3 linked regions of the Homo sapiens genome follow. The protein of the gene in region 2 purifies or fractionates together with the protein of the main gene of each other region. This does not show direct contact. Each region holds a gene or a part of one and is shown on either strand. Other genes may lie near its edges.

Region 1 (3,656 bases), on a different chromosome or scaffold from region 2:
CTGTAGCACTTTATTTTCCATTTCTAGCTTTTGAGTACATGCTTTTATTCTCTTAACCTCTTGTGCACTAAAATGGTGTTTATGGATATAAACATATTTTAAATTTATCTAGATATATAATGTTACTTTGTTTCTTTAATTAAACATATATTTTATGTTTTTTGGTTATTATTTTGTTTGATTGATAGAGTGTTTCTCAGAGAAAATTAAGTGTAGAAACCAGTTGCTGGTGAAATTTTCTAAATTAATGGTAGAATTAAAATTACTGGGTTTATCTGCATGAACACGTATAGTCAAACACAGATATAATCAAGGTCTCAGATGCATTTTAGAACTGAATGTGGTCTTGCAAATAAATAGAGTTCTAGAAGCTTAAAGTAAAACAAAAATTCTTAGTTCAATCTTTTACAAAGCTTAGCTGTTAACCTACCATCATTAACTCAAAATGAAATGCCTTAAATGAGCAACATTGATATGAATTACTCATTGGGCTAACATTCTTTCCTTCCACTAATTAAGGTTTTCATGAAGTTCGAGGTATTTTTCATGCATACAGAGCAGCTGTATACATGAGAGAGAAAAAATGTGAGAGAGAAAAAATGGATTAAAATAAAATATTTTTAAATACCAGTCATTCACTGAATACATGTTTATTAAGTGCCTATTTTTTAGCAAACACTGTGATTTTCTGGATAAATACCATTAACCTGTCCAGGGAGAGTTCATTTTTAGGACAGACATACAGAGCCTGGTCTGTAGGTGTCCCATGTGTCTATCTATATTTCATTTTAAAGGAGTATTTTGTGTTGTGACCATCAGCATTTTATCAAGTAAAACATGCTTTTGTGAGAGAAGGATTATTTTAGTGTATATGTTATAAGGGTTGCCATTCTTTTGAATTTGAAACTTGCAAAGAAACTCTAGAGAGCAGCCTGGGGGAAAATGTGTGTTTACGAATGACCTCTGTTCTCAACAATTATTCAGCTGGGGCTTACCTTTGTTTATATGATTTTTTTGTGCTTTTTCTTTGGTTGCAAAGATTGTGGATAACTCTTCTCTTCCACTATCAGAAAAGTTTCCCGTTCTGTGGGGAGGGGTGTGCTGCTTTGATAAATTGTTGTTCAAGGGCGTAGTCACTAAAGTGAATGATTGTTCAAGGAAGTGCGCTGCCTGAAAAAAGAATGAGGTCATAGGATAAAGGGGTTGCATTTTCAGCTTTGGTCTCCTCTTTTGTGCTTACAATTAAATGAAGCTATAGAAATTGGAGAGTGCAACTAATTGCTGAGTGAAAATGCCCATGGCAATTGTATCTTGTTTAACGGAGGTCTGATAAATTGCTGGGCCTGTTTTCAGTCAAAGGCACTCATAAGCTGTCACGGTGTGTGTGTGGCAAGATATGAGGGTGGCAAGTGGAAGAGAGGGAAACTGTCCTTTCAAGTTTATTTTCTTGACAATTCATGACAAAACAATTGGGAAATTTGCCATGCTCTTAAGCCCTATTTAAAAGTTAAAACTTTTATTAATAAATATATTTCAGCCAACTTTTTCTTCAGACCAGGGGCTATCCCAGTAGAGGTCATTTTTTGATTTTCAATAAAGTATATATACTCATAATTTTTAAAGACAGAAAGCATGCACTGCAAAAAAGACTGTGTATTTTATTTTCTCTCTGTCTCCTAGTTTTCTTCAGAAAAAGAAGAGAAAGAACCCAATATGGACCTCTTAAATGAGGGATTTGGGTTGGAGAGAAGGAGGAACAGGAAGTAGTTCTATTATACATTCGGTTGCTTTCTTTGTATGACAACAGAAACACAGATTTTATCCTAAATCAAAGAAGTGTTTATTTCATCTAAAGAGAGATTATTATAAATAACATGTTTCTTGCTATATAAGTTGAGTATAACATCTCAACAATAACCTCAGACAGGTGTTTAACTATGTTACATGGCTTTGAAAGATCCTAACAAAAACATCTCCCATACTATTCAGGGAATTTATTCAAATGGAGGTTTGCCTTGGCAAATTCTGTCAGCATAAATGTCAGGTGGTTTTTAAAGATATTGCTTCTTTTGAAACTGTTCAGCCTAGAGTATTTGTAACTCACCATTATTACCTTCAGTGATTCTCATAGTCATTGGGAGTAACAGGAGCATACACAAACCTTCCATGGTTTTCCTTCATGGAATATTATACTGTATATTAGTCTTTATGTAAAGTTTTAAAATTCAAATTAGACAACATAAAGAGTTATACTTTCATGTTAGCAAGTTTCCAAATATTTAGAAACAAAGCCTGCACTACGTATGTAATATTCTCTATGATTTAATTCTCATTACCTTCAGTCTTTCTTGTATGTCTTACACCAGGCTTTTGAGCTCTTTGACCACAGCTATCAACAGGAAAATGAAGCCAACAGGTCTTGACTGAAGAGGTTCAGATTTTGCAGTCTAAAGACCAATTGCAGAGAAAATTGTATGAAGAAAATGCCCAAAAAGGTCTATGTGGAATGTCTCAGGAAGAGCTGTAAATAAATATGCAATCATGAGGTGAACTTTGGCAGAATAGAACTATGAAGCAGTCTAGTTGGAGTCCCTAGGAATATTAATTTTAAAATCTCCACAACTTTAATTACACCTAAGAATATGTTCTCTAGAAAAGTTGCTTAAATTCCCTATACACATCCCATATCACTCCTCTGCTGCAAAAACCTTCAATGACACTAAGTATCTATAAATTGCTTAGTCTGACTTTCAAGGCCCTCCATGTTAGGGCTCCTGTGGAACTTCCTGGAACTCTCCTTCTGGTGTCCTATGTTTTAGCTAAGTGTAAATGATTGTTCTCTAAATAAAGTCCCCAATTTTCCACAGCTATGTCTTTCACTCCATTGCTCTTACATCTGAACTGCTCCTGCTCCTCACCCTCACCAATCTAGACACCCTGAAATTATACAAATTTTTCAAGCCTTTCCTCAAGTGTAACCTTCTGATCCTCTGATTGTCCCAGGTTGAAGTTATCTCTTAGCCCTCAAAACTTACCTAGTGAGCTTCTTATAGGTCTTATGATAGTCTACTTAATTCCTATTTGTACTCATAGTGTTTATGCCCTACATGATTATAACCATGAGAGGGTAGAGATTATATTCTAACATCATTTGTATCTCTTTCAATGCCACTACACAATAAGTAGTAAAGAAACTGCAAGTTAGTAACTTAGTCACATATATAATCAATCCAGTGAAAATAATATTTCATATTAATACATGGGTTTTTTGTTTTTCACAACTCTTCCATGTATATGATTATCTAGTAAACAACTTGATAGAACCTCAACAATTAGATAAAACATGCATTATTATGTTTATTGTACAAATTGTACGATGTACAAATAAAGACAATATTCATTGTGTATTATTTATCTGTTAAACAAATAAGGAAATTGAGACTCGAATAGCTCAAAATAACTTGCCTATTTAGTACAGCTGGTTAGTGAATGCCCTGAGTTTAAAAACCAGCTCCTGATATTTTCATTACATCAGCTATCTCCCTTAATTAACTTTCGATATTCATGATTTCAGTTTAAATTAGTTCACATTTTTTATTTCAACAAAACATTTGATGATTACCCTTACTGTATATTTTCCCATTCTAATGTTCCAT
Region 2 (3,656 bases):
AAAGAAGTTCAGCCCTGACATTTCATATAAATAAAAAAGATAGAGCCTCTTCTTCAGTGAAAATAATTTTTAAGATATTTTTGACAATTTCATCTTTAAATCAGCAAGGTTGCCAAGAAACACTGTTAAAAAGTTGCCATGTTTGGGGGGGAAAAGTAGGATTAATAATCATCATCATCTATCCTAAAATTAGTATTGAGAATTACAAGAGACCCAGAAATAAAATATCCTAATTAAAGTTTCTATAATAAGAAACAGTGAAGGGCACAAATGACCTATCTTGATTGGCAATTTCTCCCATAATGATGGTTGATTAAAAATGTCATTACCCTTAAGACATTGCTTGTAGTCAGCTGGAGTGACACTACTGCACAAGTGTGGGCAGTCTCACACATTTTCTCACTACTTAAGTATCAAGCCACTCAGGCTAGAAATCTGTAATTATTTTTTATGCTTACAATCCTCTTTATACCACTGCAAAGATGTTTAATTTTAATTTGCCTGTGTACCTTAAATGTCAAGATTCCTGAGAGACAGTGACCCACTTGTCCTGCTGAGAAGCTAAATGATACATGTGGCAGCCTTAATAAAATTCTCCATGCTCTAGGAGATAATAGGACCAATAGTCTGGTCAGATCACCCTGGAATGTGATGCTTGCTTCAACTCCATGTTAGGAGGGAGGGACTCTGCTACCTTGAAATTTGCCCAGAGCAGAGGTAGAATAGTGACAGGATCTGAAACCGGGGGCTCCATCCAAGCCATCTCTCTCCACTGATCTCCTCCACATCCCTGCTCCACATAACTGACCCATGACATTCTGTAGATTGCATCGCAGAGATCACTCCTGTGTCTTCCCCTCCTTTTCCACTGACACTGCAATGCCTGTGGTTTTGGTTGAGTCTTTTGTACTAACCTTCAAACTGGCTCACACTCTCTCCCAGATCCCATCTCATTCAGTGCTGCCAGCTTGATTTTCTTAAAGCAATGTTCTAATTATGACTTTATCCTACAAAAAAAAAAAAGAAAGGTTCTACTCTTTAGCCTCTGTGCAGAGTCCCTCATGAATTTGCTCCATAATACCCTCTCTATTCTATTTCCTGTTAACCCCCTTTATCATGAACAAATCTCTTCCAGACATACTGAAGGATTGGCCTTTCCTCATACAACCTCTAGAACTTTCCATATCTTATCCTTTGTGCAAGCTGTCCCTTCTTCCCACACACCTCAGGCTCCCCATATCCAAATGCTATTCATCCATCAAGGATTATTTCAAATGCTCTTTCCTCCACAAATCCTTCCCTAAGAATTTCCACCAAAAATAATCTCTCCCTGTATAGCTATAATATATTCCATGACCTACCATTGTATCCTCCTTGAGGGCAGGCTTTGGATCTGATTTATACTTACCTTATCCAAAGCATGTAACTGTTTGCAAAAGATGAAACAAAGATTGCCAACCTCACCCTGCAGGCCAGAGGAAACCAATGAACACGTATGTTTAGTTCACAGGTGCACATCTCCAGTTTCTCCTGACACATTAAACATCTGGCAAAGTAGGCCTGCTCTCTGCAGCTTGCCAGTTCCTGCAGTCCCCACCAGCCCCTACTGTCTTGTCTATTGACACTGCAGATGAAGCAGAGGATCAGTAGCTATTTACAATCTCTTGCTCTCCTGGTTGCTCTCATGTATAGTATTATATCTGCCTGGGTCTAAAAGACAAGTGAGTCTATAATTCCCATAGTAAATTATCAATAAGTAAGTATTGAAGGATGAAAGGCTGTCATGTGAGCAACAGCTGAAAGAACTAAGAATGTCTGAAAAGAAAAATGGCAACTGCATGTTATGACTGCAGTATTTGAAAGTGGAAGTATAATTATATTTGTTCTAAATATGTCCAGAGACTTAAAGAGAGACAATGGCGGAGATCATAGAACTTTTTGACTTTTGGAATTGCTCAAAAGCAAAATGGGTTTTCTTGTGAGAAATGGATTTCCTTCCCTGAGCTATTCAAGCTGCCCACCCACCTGCCAGGGGTCTGAGATGGGAGGCTACACTGGCCCATGCCACTCAGAGAGCCTATCACTGTGGCTCCTTTTCTAAGCTCCTTTGCTCTCTTATGGGGAAAAAGAAGACGAACAAAGTAGCACACAGTCTATGCAGATGCACTGCTCATGGGGTACATGCAGGAGAAGAGGGTTCAGAAGGAAACCTTAAGAAACCCTGTTATTTAAGCACAGTGGAAGATGAAGCACCAGCAGAGAAAAGGCAGTCAAAATTAGGAAGAAGTGTCAGGGAACTGTGTGGCCCAGAGACTAACAGGAGAGAAAACTTCCAAAAATTCCATTTCCAGTGCAGCAGAGTTAAAGTCCTGTAAGAATATAAAAATGCCCATTGGATTTAGGGGATGATGAGTTCATCAGTGACCTTGGCTTGAGAAGTTCCAGCAGAGAGGGATGGGGGCAGGGGCTCATGCCCCTGAAAACCCTCAAATTTATATTAAGGCAGTAACTCCAGATGGGATTATATATACAGGAACAATATCATTACAATTATGTTAGAAGTTTTAGTTTGATAAGTTTAAGCATTTAAATTATACTACAACTGTTCTAAACCTTTTTGGCAATTATTTATGATTTGTTAATATAAACTAAGCAAAAATAAAGAATAAAACAAAATAACTGAGGCCAAAGACAGCCTCAGGGAGGGCTGAGGTTTTAGCACAGTGGTGGTGTGAAGTCAGCTTTAATTTCTAAAAAGAACTGTGCTTCTTGTGTGGATTTTTTTTTTAATTTAAGAAGACAGCCCACTGTATTTGCAGGGGGTACCTCCAGTTAGACAAGGAAGATTGTACTCAAAACATTTATCTGCCCTCCCTCCTCAATTCTCACTAAATGAAGAGGGCACAACTTGCCAGAGCAACATGAACAAGACTGGAGAACAAGAGCAAAAGAGAAATGCCCAAAATAATGGGCGGCGGTAGGGGGGTGGTGCTGGAAAGCAGACAAAGGTAGTGAGTGATTCAGCAAAAAGAGAAAGCTAAAAGCTAAGTAACTACAGGAAGAAGGCCACAAGAGGCAGGTAATTCCTACCGCAGAACCCAGATGCTATGGTTTGAATGCCTGCATCCCCCTCCAAAATCCATGTTGAAACTGAATCCCCAATGCAACAGTATAAGATGTCCAGGAGGTGATCAGGTAAATCGGATGAGGGCTCTGCTCTAAGAATGGGATGAGGCTCTTATAAAAGGGCTCCAGGGAGCCTGTTTGACCCTTCTGCCTCATACCATGTGAGGACGTAGCACCGAAGCACCATGTACAGAGCAGAGGAAGAGCCCTCACCAGACACCAAATCTGTCAGCAGCTTGATATTGGACTTCCGAGTCTCCAGAACTAGGACAAATAAATTTCTATTATTTATAAATTACCTACTCCACAGTATTTTATTATAGTAGCCAAACAGACTAAGACACGAGAAAAGACTCAGGAGGTGGAAGCATTAGAGATACTTCTGAATGTGGCAGTGCAAAGTAGGAAACTGAAAACAGAAAAACAGATTTAAAGTTTTTAAAAGGAGCAGTTAAACCTCATCATGCATGGTCAGGCATGATGATGAGATCCCTGGCAGAAGATGAAGGAAATGTGGACTTGCTAAATGG
Region 3 (3,756 bases), on a different chromosome or scaffold from region 2:
CTTTTTACTTTATGCATAAGGGACAGCAGATAGCAACCTGCAAGAGTGGCGGGACTGGTTAATAGGAACACCCCCTGATGCTTTAGAAGCAGGAAAAGCTCAGTTCAGTAATTCACATGTGCTGAAGGAGTATACCTTTCACTTGTGGATCTACTGAGGCTATACATATAAGCTTCAATCTAAAATATAACTTACACAGGGACATGATCTGGAACGTTATTGTATGTAAAATAAAACAACAGATACTTCCCCTTTCTTCTTTAATGCTTCTGGTTACATAGCTTTGGGAATGGACTGGGGGAAGTAAAAACCCTCCTTTTGTAGTTACTTACAGGGTGGCTTGCAAATATCCAAAAATGATAGAAAACTGTCTACAATGCATAAACCGTTCTTTCTTTGAAGTAAAAAAGGGTAGACAAACTATTTGTCCACGTTTTCCCTCTACCTTGTCTTAGGCAATTTCTGTACAATAACCTCCTTCAACTTCAATGATGGACAATAATAATGCAAGTAATAATAATAACAATAATAACAAGGGCCCTCTGATAGCAAAAAGAGGAGAAATCTTTCCTGGGCCACTTCTCCCTAGCTACTATTTATCTCAATTTCTCAAGCTGCTTTGAGAAAAATTCAGAAAAAAAAATTGGGGAAAAATATTAAAACTGTATCTGAGACCTTATGTTCAGAAAGTTTATGAGTCCCTGAGAAGCTTTAACAGAGACATTCACTTCCAAATGAAGGGAAGAGACTATGCAGGTTCATTCTGCAATGATCAATATGAGCTTTGCAATATTTGCCACACTTAGTCTCTCAAGACATGTTTCTTCCTGCTCCACATTCAATATAATTTACTTTAGGAGCCAAAATCCTTACTATGCCTCTGCTTGCTAATTTTTTTAACCACCAATTTGTCAGCATTTTTATAAAGAGGATTTTATTTTCAACACCCAAATTCCTATGAGATTGATTTTATGTTGTAAGATAAATGGGGGATGGGGAAAAAATTTTTGATAAATATGGTCAAACTAGCATTTGAAGACATCTAGAACATCTTTCTTCAATGTGATTATTAATAAGCAATTATAACCCAGTATAATTTATATTGCACTAAAAACTTCTATCTCTACTATGCTCAACATAATCAGGCATAATGTCACTGGGATATTATAAATGGGGAAAACACATTAAAAATTACTTTCACTCAAGTATAGAATATTAAATAAAAACTAAATCAGTCTTGCAGAGCAAATTAAAACAAAAATCCTTACCGAATACTTGAGTCATGTGTTAAAATCGATGCTTCATATTTCATAATTTCTTCTAACATTTTCCTGGACTTCAAAGTAGCAGCGTCTATCATATCTGTAATATAGGATCAGAGACATAAAAATCCTTAAGCAAATAGAACAACTAAAACAACAGCAAAAGAACTTCACAGATTATTATTATTATTTTTTGGTCAGTAGTCTTTATTTTCTCACTTGGTTTTGATGATTCATCAGGATTATAAGTGAGTTGGATTGCTTTTATCAGCTGTTTGACTTCTGATGTTTTGTTTTCAACTTGATGTAAGATGTCTTCCAAAGACTGTAGATCCTTGTCTACTTTGGTTTGATAAGTAGACAGGAAATCTGCAATGCCACAGGTAGTTGGACAATAACTACCCTGAAAATATAACAGTGATTAAAAATGTAGACAGATGCTACTCTTAAAATCTATTAAGAAAAATAGGTAAAACCTAGACTATGTTTTTAAAAAGTTACAAGTGCCAGATGATATTTATGAGGGAATTATTTCTATTCCTCTGCCCCTCTCCAGTTCACACACAAAGGGAGAAACATAAAAACTACTTACGAATCTTTCATCTAAGATGCAGCAGTTGTCTCTGGTAGCAACATACTAAAAGAGAAAAAATACAGAAATTTCACTAGTTTATTATCTGTTTTATTTTCCAGCTTTCCATTTTAAACAACGTTTTGTGAAGAGCACACTTACTGCTACACATGTTGAAGAGAGAAATAAAAGAGCATAGAAGTAGAGAATTAAATTCCGGGGGTGCAAGGACCAACTCATGATGTCTGAGTGCCCGGAGCTCCGAGCCTTGTAGTGTCAGCACTGTCACCTCTCAGGCTCCAATTGTCCCTTTATGTAAGCTCCTGGGATAGCCAGGACTGCAAATGGCTGGAGCTGATCACGGGGCCTCCTTACCAGAAGGGTGGGCAGGTCTTTCCCGTTCCTTTTTCCTCATCCTGGCCCCCAACCTATACTGTCAGGTTCCCAGATTTTGCACACAGGTTGAAGCTCCTCCTTTTTGGCCCAGCTCAAGGTTTTTTCTCTGATCCAAAATTATCTGCAAAGGCTAGTGAAGCATTATCCATTGCTGTGAGGAGGAGGGCAGTCCTGGAGGCTGTGTGATGCAACTTCTTCCAGTACATGGCTGAGAGCAAACAGATATGACCTCGAACTAAGCAAACCTAGTCTATCCTTAAGATGGGTCCTGCTGCCATCACCTGAATTACCAAAAGAACTTTCTTAGCTTAGGGATCAGTTAACACTATTATTTTAGCCTAGGGATCAGTTAACATTATTATTTTTAATCTGTGGCTGTGGCAGGAGGAGACTGACTTCCCCCATGTCCCAGTTCACTATTCCCAGGAATGAATGACCCTGGAAATACATTCCTGTCCCTCTGTGTCAACCATGTTCATAGGCTCTCACTTCTCAGGGAGCTTTTGAGCTCAATCTTCCCTTTGTCTGAAGGTGGGCATGGCACCCCATCTGCCACAGAGAAAAGAGCCAGGAGCCCACTTCATTGTTCCTGTGGTTCCATCAAGCTATCTCAGAGAAGAGAAAAATCCACCTCCCTTGTATCTAAGGAGAGTAGAGGCATAGCTGAAGGAAGGGGCAAAATGAGGTGCTGGGGAGGGGCCATCATTTCTGTTTGGCCCTTACAGCATCCTTGTGTTTGGGAAAACATGTCTGTCATCACTGCCTATTGAGATTTATCACTGGGCGTTACACTATTATTAATGTCTCTATTTTTGGTTATCCCTCATTTCTTCCTCTGGAACCAAGCTTATTATAAGTTTTGATGAAATATGTTAGTGGGAGAAATGCCTCCAGTTTGAAAGAAATACTAATACTTTAATTCTGTCTTTACAAAGGTATATTTATTGACTCAAAAACAAAGATAAATATTCATATTCAGTAAATAATCAATAATTATAACAAAGTGAACACATCAAAACCAGATTTGTTGCTTTTCTTCTCCTCCTTAATATATCCCTCTCTGACTTAGCAGTTATTGTCAATCATATCACCATACCACCAGCCAATTAAGTCTCACAATCTTTCTCATCCATCTTTTCCACTCAGCTAATCAGTTGTCAATCAAGTCAGTTGAATTAAACATTTAAGTATTAGTATTCTTTCAAACAGCTCTACCTCAGATAGCATTTGTAGCAACCTTATATTATATGTATACATGCTGTATCCACTGCATTAGATTGTAAACTGATTTCTGTGGCTACGGCATCTAACATATATAGCTGTACTTAACATAGTTGTAGTTAACACTCAATAACTATGTAATGACTTGAATCAGTTGCCTCTGTGAAGAAGAATGGGATGCAGAGGTGGAGGACAGGATTGGAAAAAAAGGCTTTATTTTTCTCTGTAAACTTTCTATATTTAGAATGTTGAATGTATATAAATATTATCTACTAAAATATATATAATGAAAATATGTAATTATTG

What was found.
Region 1: the proteins of CA8 (region 2) and POF1B purify together in Homo sapiens (affinity purification with mass spectrometry; 3 studies listed by BioGRID and IntAct, with this or other methods). This does not show direct contact.
Region 3: the proteins of CA8 (region 2) and FGG purify together in Homo sapiens (affinity purification with mass spectrometry; 3 studies listed by BioGRID and IntAct, with this or other methods). This does not show direct contact.

What each region holds. Positions count from the first base shown.
Region 1 is NC_000023.11:85,373,105-85,376,760, reverse strand, and holds part of POF1B (protein POF1B), read left to right. Parts: intron 1-3,656. UniProt on the Homo sapiens protein: Plays a key role in the organization of epithelial monolayers by regulating the actin cytoskeleton. May be involved in ovary development.
Region 2 is NC_000008.11:60,271,379-60,275,034, forward strand, and holds part of CA8 (carbonic anhydrase-related protein), read right to left. Parts: intron 1-3,656. UniProt on the Homo sapiens protein: Does not have a carbonic anhydrase catalytic activity.
Region 3 is NC_000004.12:154,610,537-154,614,292, forward strand, and holds the start of FGG (fibrinogen gamma chain isoform gamma-B precursor), read right to left. Parts: upstream 2,121-3,756; 5' UTR 2,074-2,120; coding exon 1,996-2,073; intron 1,900-1,995; coding exon 1,855-1,899; intron 1,666-1,854; coding exon 1,482-1,665; intron 1,363-1,481; coding exon 1,269-1,362; intron 1-1,268. UniProt on the Homo sapiens protein: Together with fibrinogen alpha (FGA) and fibrinogen beta (FGB), polymerizes to form an insoluble fibrin matrix. Has a major function in hemostasis as one of the primary components of blood clots.